Linked DNA regions of Homo sapiens. The protein of the gene in region 2 purifies or fractionates together with the protein of the main gene of each other region. This does not show direct contact. Each region holds a gene or a part of one and is shown on either strand. Other genes may lie near its edges.

Evidence for each region.
Region 1: the proteins of MILR1 (region 2) and SBNO1 purify together in Homo sapiens (affinity purification with mass spectrometry; one large-scale study listed by BioGRID and IntAct). This does not show direct contact.
Region 3: the proteins of MILR1 (region 2) and RYK purify together in Homo sapiens (affinity purification with mass spectrometry; 2 studies listed by BioGRID and IntAct, with this or other methods). This does not show direct contact.
Region 4: the proteins of MILR1 (region 2) and UQCC1 purify together in Homo sapiens (affinity purification with mass spectrometry; one large-scale study listed by BioGRID and IntAct). This does not show direct contact.

Annotation. Positions count from the first base shown.
Region 1 is NC_000012.12:123,362,048-123,366,328, reverse strand, and holds the start of SBNO1 (protein strawberry notch homolog 1), read left to right. Parts: upstream 1-1,481; 5' UTR 1,482-1,628; intron 1,629-4,281. UniProt on the Homo sapiens protein: Plays a crucial role in the regulation of neural stem cells (NSCs) proliferation. Enhances the phosphorylation of GSK3B through the PI3K-Akt signaling pathway, thereby upregulating the Wnt/beta-catenin signaling pathway and promoting the proliferation of NSCs.
Region 2 is NC_000017.11:64,452,115-64,455,614, reverse strand, and holds part of MILR1 (allergin-1 isoform Allergin-1L precursor), read right to left. Parts: intron 3,019-3,500; coding exon 2,749-3,018; intron 1-2,748. UniProt on the Homo sapiens protein: Immunoglobulin-like receptor which plays an inhibitory role in degranulation of mast cells. Negatively regulates IgE-mediated mast cell activation and suppresses the type I immediate hypersensitivity reaction.
Region 3 is NC_000003.12:134,209,360-134,212,859, reverse strand, and holds part of RYK (tyrosine-protein kinase RYK isoform 2 precursor), read left to right. Parts: intron 1-1,252; coding exon 1,253-1,352; intron 1,353-3,030; coding exon 3,031-3,165; intron 3,166-3,500. UniProt on the Homo sapiens protein: May be a coreceptor along with FZD8 of Wnt proteins, such as WNT1, WNT3, WNT3A and WNT5A. Involved in neuron differentiation, axon guidance, corpus callosum establishment and neurite outgrowth.
Region 4 is NC_000020.11:35,401,974-35,405,473, reverse strand, and holds part of UQCC1 (ubiquinol-cytochrome c reductase complex assembly factor 1), read left to right. Parts: intron 1-3,500. UniProt on the Homo sapiens protein: Required for the assembly of the ubiquinol-cytochrome c reductase complex (mitochondrial respiratory chain complex III or cytochrome b-c1 complex). Involved in cytochrome b translation and/or stability.

The DNA of each region.
Region 1 (4,281 bases), on a different chromosome or scaffold from region 2:
GGTGCCCGCCACCAAGCCCCAGCTAAATTTTGTATTTTTAGCAGAGATGGGGTTTCACCATGTTGGCCAGGCTGGTCTCGAACTCCTGACCTCAGGTGGTCCGCCCACCTCGGCCTCCCGAAGTGCTGGGATTACAGGCGTGAGCCACTGCGCCCGGCCTAAAATATTTTTTATTTTTGTCTTTATAGGTTTTTTTTCTATGTGTGTGAGAGGATTAAATGAAATAATGTAATTAGTAAAGCGATTAGTTAGCACTTTAAAAATATTTATAAATGTATACATAGATATATAATACATATCTATGTGTACAAACACTGAAGTTTCCTATTCTTTCTGTGCCTACTTTTTCCTTTCTTTCCCCGAATACTTTGTCTCTGGAAGAGTTCACACTGTAACCTCCAACTGTTCCAGCTACTTGGTTTGCTTTCAGCACTAGGCTTGTAGGATGCGCAGCCAGTAGGGGGCAAGAATCACCCAGGCGTGCTTATTACCCAAGCAACGGAGTCAAACAGCACTTTCAGAATGACTTTACAAAAGGGTTACCAACAAGGTAATATGTTTATTGTGTTAGGTCGCTTAATAATAACGAAAAGATGAAAACAAGGAAGTGAGAAGCGGTAGGGACAGCCCTACTCTTCAGTATTCATTAAGTGGGAGCCCCGGTGTGTCGGGCTTGCGTATGAGCGTGAAGACAGACGTGGGATGGCTGAGCTCACACGCCTTAGGCTCTGATTCTAGCCGTGGTCGCGCCGAGGGCTCCGGGTTACTTGCGGTTTCACTGCCAATAAAGTGCTTTGAGCGAGCCTAACAAGCAATGAATATGTAAACATTTTGTTTCTAGGACTAACTAGGTAATGAAGAGATCTTCCAAGTGACAGAAACGCTGCTAGGTAACTTCCTGGGCCGTAGCTCCCCACCCTAACAGGTTCTGAAAATAGCTCCAGGCCCTTCCTAACCGGAGTTTGAAAGCAGGCGCGGGGCGCATGCGCGCGGCCCTCCGGCCGACCTCCCGATAGCCCTGGCACGCGGACCTTCTTCCCGACAGGCCGCGGGGAAAAAAGGGCGGGGAAACGGAATTACCGCGAGCTCTCCGTGAGCGCCGGCGGAAACAGTAGTCACGTGACTCTCCTAGGTGGCCTTCGCCTTCCCCCTCCCCCTTCGCGGAAACCCGGCCCCCTCACCCCTCGCCCACCCCAGAGCCGCGGTAATGGACCGTTTGGGTTCCGGAATTCTCTTGGATCCAACAACTGGTACCGGGCCGAGGATAGCCGGCGGAGTCCGTTTTTGGCGGCGAAGACTGGGGGGTGGTCAAGATGGGGGGGAAATCATCTTCCTTCACCTAGGAGGGAGGCGGGGCGGAGAGGGGCGCAGAGAGGCGGGTGGGGGAGGAGGGAGGAAGTCACGTGAGGGCGCTGCGTGCGCGCGGCGCCTCATCCGTTGCCCCTCCCCCGCCCCTCCCGGCGGGGCGGGGGGGCTGGGGGAGGGGCGTCAAGATGGCGGCGGGGAGGTAGGCAGAGCAGGACGCCGCTGCTGCCGCCGCCACCGCCGCCTCCGCTCCAGTCGCCTCTGGTCCTTCAAACTCACACCTCCCGGGAGGAGCTGTGCTGGCGCCGGGTCCCGCGGGGAAAGTAAGTCCTTCCCTTGGCCCTTTTCTCCTTCCACACTCCCCCTCCCGGACAGCCTCCCACTCCCACCCTCGGGGGGCCGTGCGGGGCCAGGCTGGGGGGACAGCCACCTCGCCCCGGCTTGGGGCCTCCCTCGCCGCTTGCCGCTCCTCGCGGCCGCGCGCTCCGGGGCCCTCGGGGGCATGTTCCCGACGGCGGCTCCGTTGTACTCGCTTCCTCTGTTCGTCAGCGCCGGGCCCCGCTGTCGCCGCTCGTGGGGCTTTCGGGCTCCGGGAGCCCCGCTGTCCCGGGCCGGAGGCACCCCTCTTGGACCGCGGGGCAGGGTCTGTGCACGCCGGCTCCGCTGGGTTCGCCCCTTTGGCTTCCGCCTCACAACCCGGGGGCTGCGGGTCCGGGACCCGCGGGGAAAGTAAGGACCGGATCCTTCCCAAGTCCTCTTTCGTGCCCCAGCATTGCTCCCGGCTCTGGGCGAGGGAGGGAGGCAGGCGACGCGGTCGTCCTTCCTAAATCTGAACCCCACAGCGCGGTCTCGTACATGCCCCGCTCTTGGGGCGGTGGGGAAGCCGCGGGGGACACGTGCAGGCTCCCTTCACGCCTCTCCAGGCGACTCGCTTAGTTCTGCCTCGGCGGGCGAGCTCACCTCCCAGACCCTAAGAATTACCCATGGAGGGGAACGGCAGTTGGGGATTTGCTTACTTTGAGAGCGTTTGGCATAACGAGCATCCAGAGTTCCCCAAAGCAGTGGATACCGGTGGTTTCCCAGAAGTGGTTTGGGGTCGGTTTAACCGCTGAGGAGATTTGGATGTTCCTAAACCCTTCTGATTGTTTCTTTCCTGACCCTGGCATCCAGCTCCTCCCCTTCCCACCCCTGCTTTGTGCTTCTGTTTGGTTAATGTTTGCGGACCACTAACTTGATCCTCGCACAGAGAAGCTCTTTTTATGTGCGTGCTCGGTTTACTGTGGGAGGCTTTTGTTTTGGGGAGTCGCTGGTTGAGAAACGTGGGAAAAGAACGGGCCAGAAAATGAGAGACAAATAAAGCAACGTTTTTATCCATTGAATTGCGCAGCCAATTGTAAGTGCACCCGGAAGTTTGTACTGAACACGTGTTGAGGGAAGGTTATAAACTGGTCCCCTTTGACCTTTGAAAGTTGGCTATTATCATTTTATGTTGAGTTAAATGTTTCATATATTCTAGACAGCCAGAATTAGGGATGGAATATGGTTTCTAAAGAGTCATCCAGAAGGGTGCAGAGAACTGTCATCCGGAGTGCCCTAGCAGGAATTGACTTAACACTTTCAGATAATTCTGCGAGCTGACAGTACAGAGGGATTCTATTTTCCACCATATTTTCTAGCAATCAGAATTGATTTTCATAAGCGTAGGGAAAGCTATCATCGTTGCACAGAAGATAGCAGAATTTCCTACTGGTGACTTGAGTGGGACATTAATTTTGCAAGCAAGGGAACATTTTCTCTCATCTTTTAAAGAAGTTGTTTCCAAAATTTTTCCGATGGGAGACGACTTTACTTTTTTTCTCTGGCTTCTGCTTTTTATCTTCCATTCCAACTTATTCCATATAATTGCGTTTGGAATATTTATGCTATTTTTAAATTTTTGAGACAGGGTCCCACTCTGTTGCTCAAGCTGAAGTGCAGTGACGTGGTCATAGCTCACTGCAGCTTGAACTCCTGGGCTCAAGCGATCGTCCCACTTCAGCCTCCGGAGTAGCTGGGACTACAGATGTGCACCACTACAGCAGCTAATTTTTTTTTTTTTAATTTTTTTGTTGAGAGGCGGGGGTCTCACCATGTTGGGAGGCAGCTACTGGCCTCAAGCAATCTTCTGGCCTCCGCTTCCCGAAGTGGTGGGATTACAGGCATGAGCCATTGTGCCTGGCCCCTTCAGAATCTTTTTTTTTTTTTTTTTTTTTTTTGAGGCGGAGTCTTGCTGTGTTGCCCAGGCTGGAGTGTAGTGGTATGAACTCGGCTCACTGCAACCTCTGCCTTCAGGGTTCAAACAATTCTCCTGCCTCAGTCTCCCTAGTAGCTGGGATTGCAGGCATGTGCCACCACACCTGGCTAATTTTTTTTTATGTAGTTGGCAGAAAGGGGTTTCACCATGTCGGCCAGGCTGGTCTCACACTAGTGACCTCAAGTGATCCACTCACCTCTGTCTCCCGGAGTGCTGGAATTACAGCCGTGAGCCACCGCCCTTGGCCCCCCCGTCAGAATCCTTTTTTTTTTTTTTTTTTTTTTTTTTTTTTTTTGAGACGGAGTCTCGCTCAGTGGCCCAGGCTGGAGTGCAGTGGCACGATCTCTGCTCACTGCAAGCTCCGCCTCCCGGGTTCACGCCATTCTCCTGCCTCAGCCTCCCAAGTAGCTGGGATTACAGGTGCCCGCTGCCACGCCCGGCTAATTTTTTGTACTTTTAGTAGAGACGGGGTTTCACCATGTTAGCCAGGATAGTCTCGATCTCCTGACCTCGTGATCCGCTTGCCTCGGCCTCCCAAAGTGCTGGGATTGCAGGCGTGAGCCACCACGCCCAACAGAATCTTTTTTTTTTGAGGTGGAGTCTCGCTCTCTCGCCCAGGCTGGAGTGCGGTGTCATAACCTTGGCTCACTGCATTCCTCTGCCTCCTGGGTTAAAACGGTTAT
Region 2 (3,500 bases):
AGGCGTGGTGGCAGGCGCCTGTAGTCCCACCTACTCGGGAGGCTGAGGCAGGAGAATTGTGTGAACCCGGGAGGCAGAGCTTGCAGTGAGCCGAGATGGTGCCACTGCACTCCAGCCTGAGTGACAGAGCAAGATCCATCTCAAAAAAAAAATTTTTTTTTGATGAGTGAATCAGTGATTAATGAATTTGTGTTTATGGCTCATAGTTTCAACCCTTACTGGGTTGGAGACAACACTATGTTTTAGGCCTCATTAAAAACCCAGTAGTACAATTGCTTGCATGGAGTAGGTACTCCGTAGTGCCTATTGATCTGGCCTAACTGAAGATGATACAGTTTTATAATCTACCAAGATAGTTTTATTACCAGACTGTGTAATTACCCTAACAAATTGCAGGAAGGTCGTGCACAAAAAACATATGAACTGATGGGCTTATTGCTGAGTGCAGCAGGAGTCTGACCACTAGAGAATACCATCAGCTGTGTTCCTGCCCTCACATATCCATCGTATTCCAGTACCATGTTTGCAGGGATTTTCCCCCTCCTTCTTCCTTTTCCTTTCACAAGGAATATACTCAGTTTATGTCCAAAGATCATTGGGATTTTTTTTTTCTTGAGACAGGGTCTCTCTCTGTCACCCAGGCTGCAGTGCAGTGGTGCAATCACAGCTCACTGCAGCCTTGAACTCCTGGGCTGAGGCAATCCTCCCAACTCAGCCTCCTGAGTAGTTGGCACTATAGGCACGCCACCACGCTCAGCTACATATATATATTTTTTAACTTTTTGTAGACACACAGTCTCCACATAGTTCCCAGGCTGGTCTCAAACTCCTGGGCTCAGGTGATCCTCCCGCCTCAGCCTCACAAAGTGCTGGGATTACACCTGTGAGACAGCGCACCTGGCCAAGATAATTGGTTCTAACCTGGAGTCCGTAGCATTCTCTAAAACCTTATGCAGAAATTTGTATACGTAGTTTTATGAGCATTTCTCTGGAGAAGATATTCATTGCTATCATTGGATTATTAAGACAGTTATAACCTAAAAAGCTAAGAATCACTGAGCTACAGCAATGTCACCCAGTAGAACTTTCTGTGATGATGGGAATGGTCTACATCTGTGTTGTCCAATGTGGCAGCCACCAGCTACAGGTGTGGCTATCAAAGCCTTGAAATGTAACTGAGACTGTGGAGGGAAATTTTTTATTTCATCTAATTTTAATTGACTTGATTTTAATTATGGCACGTGCTTGTAATCCAAGCTATTCAGGATGCTGAGGTGGGAGGATCTCTTAAGAACAGGAGTTTGAGGCTGCAATGGGCTTTGATTGCCTGTGAGTAGCCTCTGCACTCCAGCCTGGGTGACATAGGCTATTAAATAAATAAACGTTGGCCAGGAGCAGTGGCACACGCCTGTAATCCCAGCACTTTGGGAGGCTGAGGTGGGTGGATCACCTGAGGTCAGGAGTTAAGACCAGCCTGGTCAACATGGTGAAACCCCATCTCTATTAAAAATACAAAAATTAGCTGGGCATGGTGGTGCATGCCTGTAATCCTAGCTACTCGGGAGGCTGAGGTGGGAGAATTGCTTGAACTCGAAAGGCGGAGGTTGAAGTGAGCTGAGATCGCACCACTGCACTCCAGCCTGGGTGACAGGGCGAGACTCCATCTCAAAAAAAGAAAAAAAGAAATAAAATAAAACAAAATAAACAAATAAGTTTAAACAGTACCGTACTGGATAGCATAGACATAGAGGACCACTCAAGAGTTATCAGGAAGTCAGGGTCCCTACGCTTTGAAGACTCCAGGTATAACATACATGTGTTACCTAGAAGCCTTCTCTCCTCCCACAGGAGTCCATTATCAAGGTCACCTTCACGGATGAGGCCCTTAATGCTAGGCAGTAACAGGCTTGGGGTAGGAAAATGGGACAGAAAAACACAGAAGTAGTGAGATGTGGCTAGGCAGGAAGAGTGCTAGCGGATGGGGCCCCTGACACTAAGGAAGCGGTGGGAAAGGCGTGAGGCTTTGAAGACCCTCTCCAAGGGGCCCAAGGCTTCAGAAAAAAAAAAAAAAAAAAAAAGCGATTTTTGCCCACACAATGGGAATCACAGAATAAAGTTTCTAGAAAAGACCTCCACAATTATTGTTGAGATATAAGACTTTTGCCTAAAGATATAAGACTATTATCTGACATGGTCGAAAGTCTTTGAAAGAGAAGGTGAAACGGAATGATTAAGAATAGAGAACTCACTGGGCATGGTGGCTTACATCTGTAATCCCAGCATTTTGGGAGGCTGAGGCAGGCGGATCACCTGAGGTCAGGAGTTCGAGACCAGCCTGACCAACATGGTGAAACCTCGTCTCAAGTAAAAATACAAAAATTAGCCAGGCGTGGTGATGGGTGCCTGTAATCCCAGCTACTTGGGAGGCTGAGGCAGGAGAATGCCTTGAACCCAGGAGGTGGAGTTTGCAGTGGACCATGATTTCACCACTGTACTCCAGCCTGGGCAACTGAGTGAGACTCTGTTTCAAAAAAAAAAAAAAGAATAGAGATCTCAAAAATTAAAAAATTAAAAGATACTTCCTGTTGACCAGGTCTAAAAATAAATAAAAAATAAAAAAAGAATAAAGCTCGCAGTAACATACTTTCCAGGTTCTTAAGTGTTCACAAGGATCATGGAGAGCCCCTCATAGAACCAGAAAGCACCCTATAAATTATAGGGGCTCCAAGGAACAGGCACTCTACTTACCGACAATCGTGAAGCTGAAGTCACGACTGTATTTTGAACAGCTGGTAACTTGGGCTTTGCATTTGTAGGGGCCTGATTCATGGGCTTCTGTGATGCTTAGGTTAAAAATCGCAGGTTCACCTTTTCCATCCTGGGTTCCCAGGTGTGTCTTACGTCGAAACAATGAATAGGTGATCTGCAGTGATTTGTTCTTATGGGAACAAAACATAGATACATTTTGACCCTTCATAACCACCTTAGTCTTTGAGTCCAAACATGGAGAAGGGAATTCTGAAAAACAAAATGACACAAGAAAAAGTCCTTCTTAAGATCCTGGCCGGGCAAGGTGGTTCACGCCTGTAATCCCAGCACTTTGGGCGGCCGAGGCAGGTGGATCACTTGAGGCCATGAGTTTGATACCAGTCTGGGCAACATGGCAAAACCCTGTCTCTACTAAAAATACAAAAATTAGCTGGCATGGTGGTGGGCACCTGTAATCCCAGCTACTCAGGAGGCTGAGGCAGGAGAATTGCTTGAACTAGGGAGGCGGAGGTTGCAGTGAGCCAAGATCATGCCACTGCACTCCAGGCTGGGTGACAGAGTGAGACTACCTCAAAAAATAAAAATAATAATAAATAAAAAGTTCTTGAAGTTGGGTGTGGTGGTTGACGCCTATAATCCTAGCACTTTGGGAGGCTGTGGTGGGAGGGTCACTTGAGGTCAGGAGTTCGAGAACAGCCTGGGCAACAAGTGAGACCTCGTCTCTAATTTTT
Region 3 (3,500 bases), on a different chromosome or scaffold from region 2:
TGAAAGGAGAAACCCCAAGGGGAATCAAATTCTGGACTGAGCCCTTCTTATTCATGGGTAACAACGCCTTCCACCTTAGCCCAAGCGTAAGGGCCATCCCTTCCCTTATATCTGGGATGATACTCTTTCCCTCTTTTCTTTCATCTTTATTATGTACCATTTCGTTAGCTTTTTTCACTAGCATATATACATATTTGAATATCTCATCTAAAAACAAAGAAAAGCTTTGGAACACCCCCCACTTCACCATCTGTCTCCCATTCTTCTAGTTAAGTTTCTTGAAGAATGGTTTATCGAACATCTTTCTTCTCACTCTTTTCCCAACCTGCTGCCTCGTGGCTCTGCAAATCTCAGTCTGCCACCAATGATACCTTTTGTGACCACTGAATGAGAGAGGGATACCATAGTTATCAAGAACCTGTGGGCAGGGCAGAGAGTGATGTGAACTGTAGGGCTTCATTGAAAGTCTTGATGCTGGCAGCCATTCTGAATTTCAGCTATTGCTTTGCAGTTTGAGCTGCTTCTTTCATGAACTCTCCATAGCAACAGAGCCTTAATTATTGATGCTGATTGGTTCTGTTAAGCCACATTGGGTAGGCCAAGTATTGATAGATAACATTGGTGTTTTAGAGACATCTCATGGGTTGCCTGTCTTCCCTTCTGGATTCTGAATCACTTAAGAAGTAGATCCAGAGGTCAAATGGGGATCTAAACATGAACTTTCTTTTTGGTGAGAGCAAGACTAGAGGATGTGACTTAGATATTCTATGAGAAATCTACCTTGGAATCTGCTTATTGTGTGAGTGGGTCTGCAGAGCAGACCTTCCTCCACCAGCCACAAGGAGGCCCTCCGAGCTTGGCTTTCATTTATCAACCAGAGAAGGCATTGGTAGCTATTTATGGTCTGTCAGTTACATATCTCACCGCTTTGGTTCTTCATATCTGGCTCTCCATGGCCTCTCTGTCAGTGCTGCATAGTTCTCAGCAGGATTTCTGACCCTAGATGGCAGGTTTTATGGAAGAGTGGTGGTCCTGTTGTGGACTTAAAATAGAGGGTGGCTTACTTGGTTGAATTTTTATCCAATTGAAAATTCTTAGGACTGTTTCTGACAATTTGCATTTTTTTATAGCTAGATTATTTGTACATATGAAAGGCTCATCCATTGATTAATGAGCCAATTAATGAAGTCAAGCTGATAGTATCCTTCTTGTTATCACAGGTCCATTTTGTTTATTTTTGTCTATTTTACAGGTTGAATATAAGCTGGGATTCCAAGTGGACAATGTTTTGGCAATGGATATGCCCCAGGTCAACATTTCTGTTCAGGGGGAAGTTCCACGCACTTTATCAGGTAAGTAAGAGTCTTCAAAGACAGAGTTAACATACTTTTTCAACTGCATCCCCTATGGCCCCAAAACAGAAGTTTACTGATGTGTAGTGTGTATTACTTGATAGGCATAAGATGTATGAGTACTGTGAAAAGTAATTTTTGTAAATATTTGCACTGTGTTCTTAAACCATTCTCTCTTTTCTGTCCTTCTGGAACTCTCTGTGCTCCGCCCTCCCTGTCTCTTTTTCTGCATTGCTGGTACTTACCTCCACATGAGTCCCTGTGCCTGATCTTGTTTCCCTTTGATTAGGCACCACATTTCACCCTGTGGCCCAGATGATCTTTGCACGGTCATGTTTGACCCTGTGACGTGAAGCCCATCAGTGCTCTCCACTCCCATCAACTGAACATTCCAGACTCACCACCTTGTGTCCTGGATCCTTTACCATCTGCCCCTGCCTGCCTGTCTAGCCTTGTTGCTGCACTTGCCCCAGAGTTGTAGCAGTTCCAGACTACATGCAGTTCTGATCTTCAAGCCTTTGCATGTGCTGGTCTCAGTATTTGGGATCATCTTTTCCTCTTTCTGCTCGTGAACTCCTTTCTATTCATCCTACTCATTCTGCAAGACTCAAGATCTGCACTGTCTTTTTTCTGCCACCTTCTCTTCTTTCATTTGTTAACTTCTATTCTTCCTACCCCTTAGAACCTTATATTTAACTGTTTTTGCACTGATTACATATCTAGCAATTCCCTTGATGCATAGCATAGAGTATGGTGCAGGATAGGCACTCAGTACAGTCTGAGTAAATGAATAAGTGTATTATTTACACCAATTTAACTGCTTTTGAGCTAACTTCTTAGGCTCTTGAAGTTGTGGTATTTGTAAGAAATGGATATTTTTAAAAATTGAAAGTATCAGCCACAATAGTGTTGTGAAACTTTTTCTGGCAGTCATATTCACTGTTATCAGTGACATACATTAAGCTTAAATAAAGCACAGGAGGGCTGCTTAAATTTTTATGGGCAGTAAAGGAATTTAGAAATGCCCATATCTTTAATGCAGTCATACAGATGGTAGAATGATAGGTTTTAAATTTGTAGGAAAAGAATCTTAAAGATTGGGGAAAAAAATTATATGCACTGAAGTCTGTTATCCCATTGTTACAATTATGGATTAAAATCAATTTCTGTTGAGAAAGGTGATAGCTGACAATTTATCAGATTCATTTACAGGTTTATATTTAATCTTTTTATTAAGAGCAGACATACTTGCATTTTGGTAGTGAGTTGTCTTTCCATTTGATCATGTAATTTCTGTTGTTACTATTGCTGATGTGTCTGTTAAGGTTTGCCTTATGATCCTTCAGTTTTAGTGTACTGGAATAGCAGGACTTATGAGACAAAGTGGTGTATTAAAAACAATGAGCAGAAGTTGAAAACAATTATCTCTTCATTGATGTCTTGGTTTGTTCTTTAATACTAACTTTTATATCCATAATGAATTAAATGCTTAATGTCTAGAGGTGTGGTAGTCTGAAGATCTCTAAAAACTTTTGTTTAGTTACTTTATTTAAATGTATTACTTTTAGTTTTCTTGCAGCAAAAATAAGTAATTCTAAAATGTTTAAAAGAATCATTTTGGGGCATTAATGTTGATTTTTAGAAAATGTAAAATATTTTTCTTATCTTTTTTAAACAGTGTTTCGGGTAGAGCTTTCCTGTACTGGCAAAGTAGATTCTGAAGTTATGATACTAATGCAGCTCAACTTGACAGTAAATTCTTCAAAAAATTTTACCGTCTTAAATTTTAAACGAAGGAAAATGTGCTACAAAAGTAAGGAATTTATTTACCAAAATATGTTTTACATGTATGTGAGAAGGTGAAAAATAGAGTTTGTTGTTTTTTCACAGATTTAAGTATGTCCAACTCATGATTATAGTTGCAAGTGAGAAAAGAGCACTGGCAGGTGAAGTTTTGAGATAATCCCAGATGGTTGGTAGCCAAGAATCTCACTCAGGCCTCATTCAGTCCATGCTTTCTCAAATCTTTTGTCAGAATTGCTAAGATGTTTTCCATTAGGAATAGTGCTAAAATGGTTGAAGAGGTAAAGAAATAAGAAAAATCTGTTGGGACTTCTGAGTAACTATGTTAACTGTGTTTCCCTTATC
Region 4 (3,500 bases), on a different chromosome or scaffold from region 2:
TATGGGCCATACTTTATTGTTTCTTTGCATGTTTTATAACTTTTTGTTGTTGAAAACTGGACATTTTAAATAATGTGGCCACTCCGGAAATCAGATTGTTTCCCTTCCCAGGGTTTGCTGTTGTATTTTTGTTTAGTGACTTTTCTGAATTGATTCTGTAGTCTGTATTCTTTGTTGTTTGTGGCTACTGAAGTCTCTGCTTAGATAGCTTAGTGGTCAGGTAATGATTAAACAAATTTCTTTAAATTTCTGTTAAATTTCTTAAAATTCTGTTCTCACTGCCTGGAAGCAGTGAGTATCCCAGTTTTTGCTTTGGGGCTCTGTGTGCACGTTGGGATGTACCTATAACACTCTGCCAGGCATTCGATAACTCTGCCTTAACTTTCACTTCCTGCTATGCAGAACCTCAAGGTCAACCACAAGTAAGAGACATTCTTAGGTCTTTCCTGAGCATGTGCACAGCTTTGGGTATATGCACAGACCTGGGTATGTTCATGGCTTCCTAGATGCCCAGGAATATATTGGGGCTTTTCTAAGCCTCTGTGGACATCTTATTCCCCAGCTTTTCCTTTAAACCTTTTTGGTTAGCCTGTTGTTTTCTCCACCTGTTAATCACTGCCTCAGGAAGCCATGAAGTCAAACAGTTACCTCTATTTGTTTTCAACCGGTGCTCCTGGGGAAAAGGTTTTTTCACACTGGGTGAGTTCTAAGACAGCCTTGAAATAGGGCCTTCTAAGGAACTGTCAGACAGGTTGAATAATGCCAGTTCTTTTTTTTTTTTTTTTTCAGAGTCAAGCTTCTTTTTTTTTTATACTTTAAGTTCTAGGGTACATGTGCACAACGTGCAGGTTTGTTACATATGTATACATGTGCCATGATGGTGTGCTGCACCCATTAACTCATCATTTACATTAGGTATATCTCTTTTTTTTTTGAGATGGAGTCTTGCTTTGTCACCCAGGCTGGAGTGCACTGGCGCAATCTCAGCTCACTGCAAGCTCCACCTCCCGGGTTCACGCCATTCTCCTGCCTCAGCCTCCCGAGTAGCTGGGACTACAGGCGCCTGCCACCATGCCCGGCTAATTTTGTTTTTTTTTTTTTTTTGAGACGGAGTCTCGCTCTGTCACCCAGGCTGGAGTGCAGTGGTGCAATCTCGGCTCACTGCAAACTCCGCCTCCTGGGTTCACGCCATTCTCCTGCCTCAGCCTCTCCGAGTAGCTGGGACTACAGGCACCCGCCACCACGCCTGGCTAATTTTTTGTATTTTTAGTAGAGACGGCATTTCACCGTGGTCTCGATCTCCTGACCTCGTGATCCGCCCGCCTCGGCTTCCCAAAGTGCTGGGATTACAAGCGTGAGCCACTGCGCCCGGCCACGCCTGGCTAATTTTTTGTATTTTTAGTAGAGATGGGGTTTCACCATGTTAGCCAGGATGGTCTCGATCTCCTGACCTTGTGATCCGCCCTCCTCGGCCTCCCAAAGTGCTTGGATTACAGGCATGAGCCACCACGCCCGGCCTAGGTATATCTCTTAATGCTATCCCTCCCCGCTCCCCCCACCCCACGACAGGCCCTGGTGTGTGATGTTCCCCTTCCTGTGTCCAAGTGTTCTCATTGTTCAATTCCCACCTCTGAGTGAGAACATGCAGTGTTTGGTTTTCTGTCCTTGTGATAGTTTGCTGAGAATGATGGTTTCCAGCTTCATCCATGTCCCTACAAAGGATATGAACTCATCCTTTTTTATGGCTGCATAGTATTCCATGGTGTATATGTGCCACATTTTCTTAATCCAGTCTATCATTGTTGGGCATTTGGGTTGGTTCCAAGTCTTTGCTATTGTGAATAGTGCCTCAGTAAACATACGTGTGTGTGTGTCTTTATAGCAGCATGATTTATAATCCTTCGGGCATATACCCAGTAATGGGATGTCTGGGAATAATGCCAGTTCTTTGTAAGGCTTTGATGAACATCATCCCCATTCTGGAGTCAACTTGTCTCCTGAGGAGACTAGTTCCTTTAGTGGTTGTTGCTATTTAGAAACCACATCTGGGTGCTACATGTGCTTATTGCTACTGGAGTGTCATCTGCAGGCCCTACCAGGACGTGGGTAGGAAATATATATATGTCTATATATACACATAAACATGCATATATCTTTTTCTTTATATATTAAAAGCCCACACCAGTTATTCTAATCTATTCTAATACCACAGGGTTTGTTCTACTCTTTTGCCTTGCCATATTTGTTAACTCCTTTCTCTGATAGAAACCTGACCCCTCACCCTTAATGTATTTATTGATTTATTCAAATCTTTCCTGTATGTAATCAATCTTTTGAAAGCTCAGATTGAAAACTCCCAAAAAAGTGGGAGGAGGCAGTGTATAGGTAATTTTTTTTTTTTTTTTTGAGACGAAGTCTCGCTCTTGTCCCCTAGGCTGGAGTGCAATGGCGCGATCTCAGGTCACTGCAACCTCCGCCTCCCGGGTTCAAGCAATTCTCCTGCCTCAGCCTCCCAAGTAGCTGGGACTGCAGGTGCATGCCCTCATGCCCAGCTAATTTTTTTGTATTTTAGTAGAGATGGGGTTTCACTGTGTTGCCCAGGCTGGTTGCAAACTCCTGAGCTCAGGCAGTCCGCCTGCCTCGGCCTCCCAAAGTACTGGAGTAATTTTTTGTTATTGTTTGAGATGGGGTCTCACTCTGTCACCCAGGCTGGAGTACAGCAGCATGATCTCTGCCTACTGCAACCTCCGCCTCCCGGGTTCAAGCGATCCTTGTGCCTCAGCCTCCTGAGTAGCTGGGATTACCAGCATGCGCCACCATGCCCGGCTAATTTATATATATTATATATATATATATATTTTGTTTGTTTGTTTGTTTGTTTGTTTGTTTGTTTTTTGAGATGGAGTCTCGCTCTGTCGCCCAGGCTAGAGTGCAGTGGTGCGATCTCAGCTCACTGCAAGCTCCGCCTCCCAGGTTCACGCCATTCTCCTGCCTCAGCCTCCCGAGTAGCTGGGACTACAGGCGCCCACCACCACACCCGGCTAATTTTTTGTATTTTTAGTAGAGACGGGGTTTCACCATGTTAGCCAGGATGGTTTCAATCTCCTGACCTCGTGATCTGCCTGCCTCGGCCTCCCAGAGTGCTGGGATTACAGGCGTAAGCCACCGCGCCCGGCCTATATTATGTATTTTTTAGTACAGACGGGTTTCACTGTGTTGGCCAGGCTGGTCTCGAACTCCTGACCTCAAGTGATCCACCCACCTCAGCCTCACAAAGTGTTGGGATTACAGGCGTGAGCCACTATGCCCGGCCTGTATTCAGTAATTTTTGAAGGAATGGTTAAACATTCTCTTCTTCCCTCTGTGGAAATATCCTTTTGTATTATAGCATGCCACATTGTAACTGGAAGGAAAGTTTGTTACCGTAGTATCTGTTCTTTGGACTCCGGAATTGAGTTAGTATCCATGGCATTTGGAATATAGGCACCAGTGGTGACTTA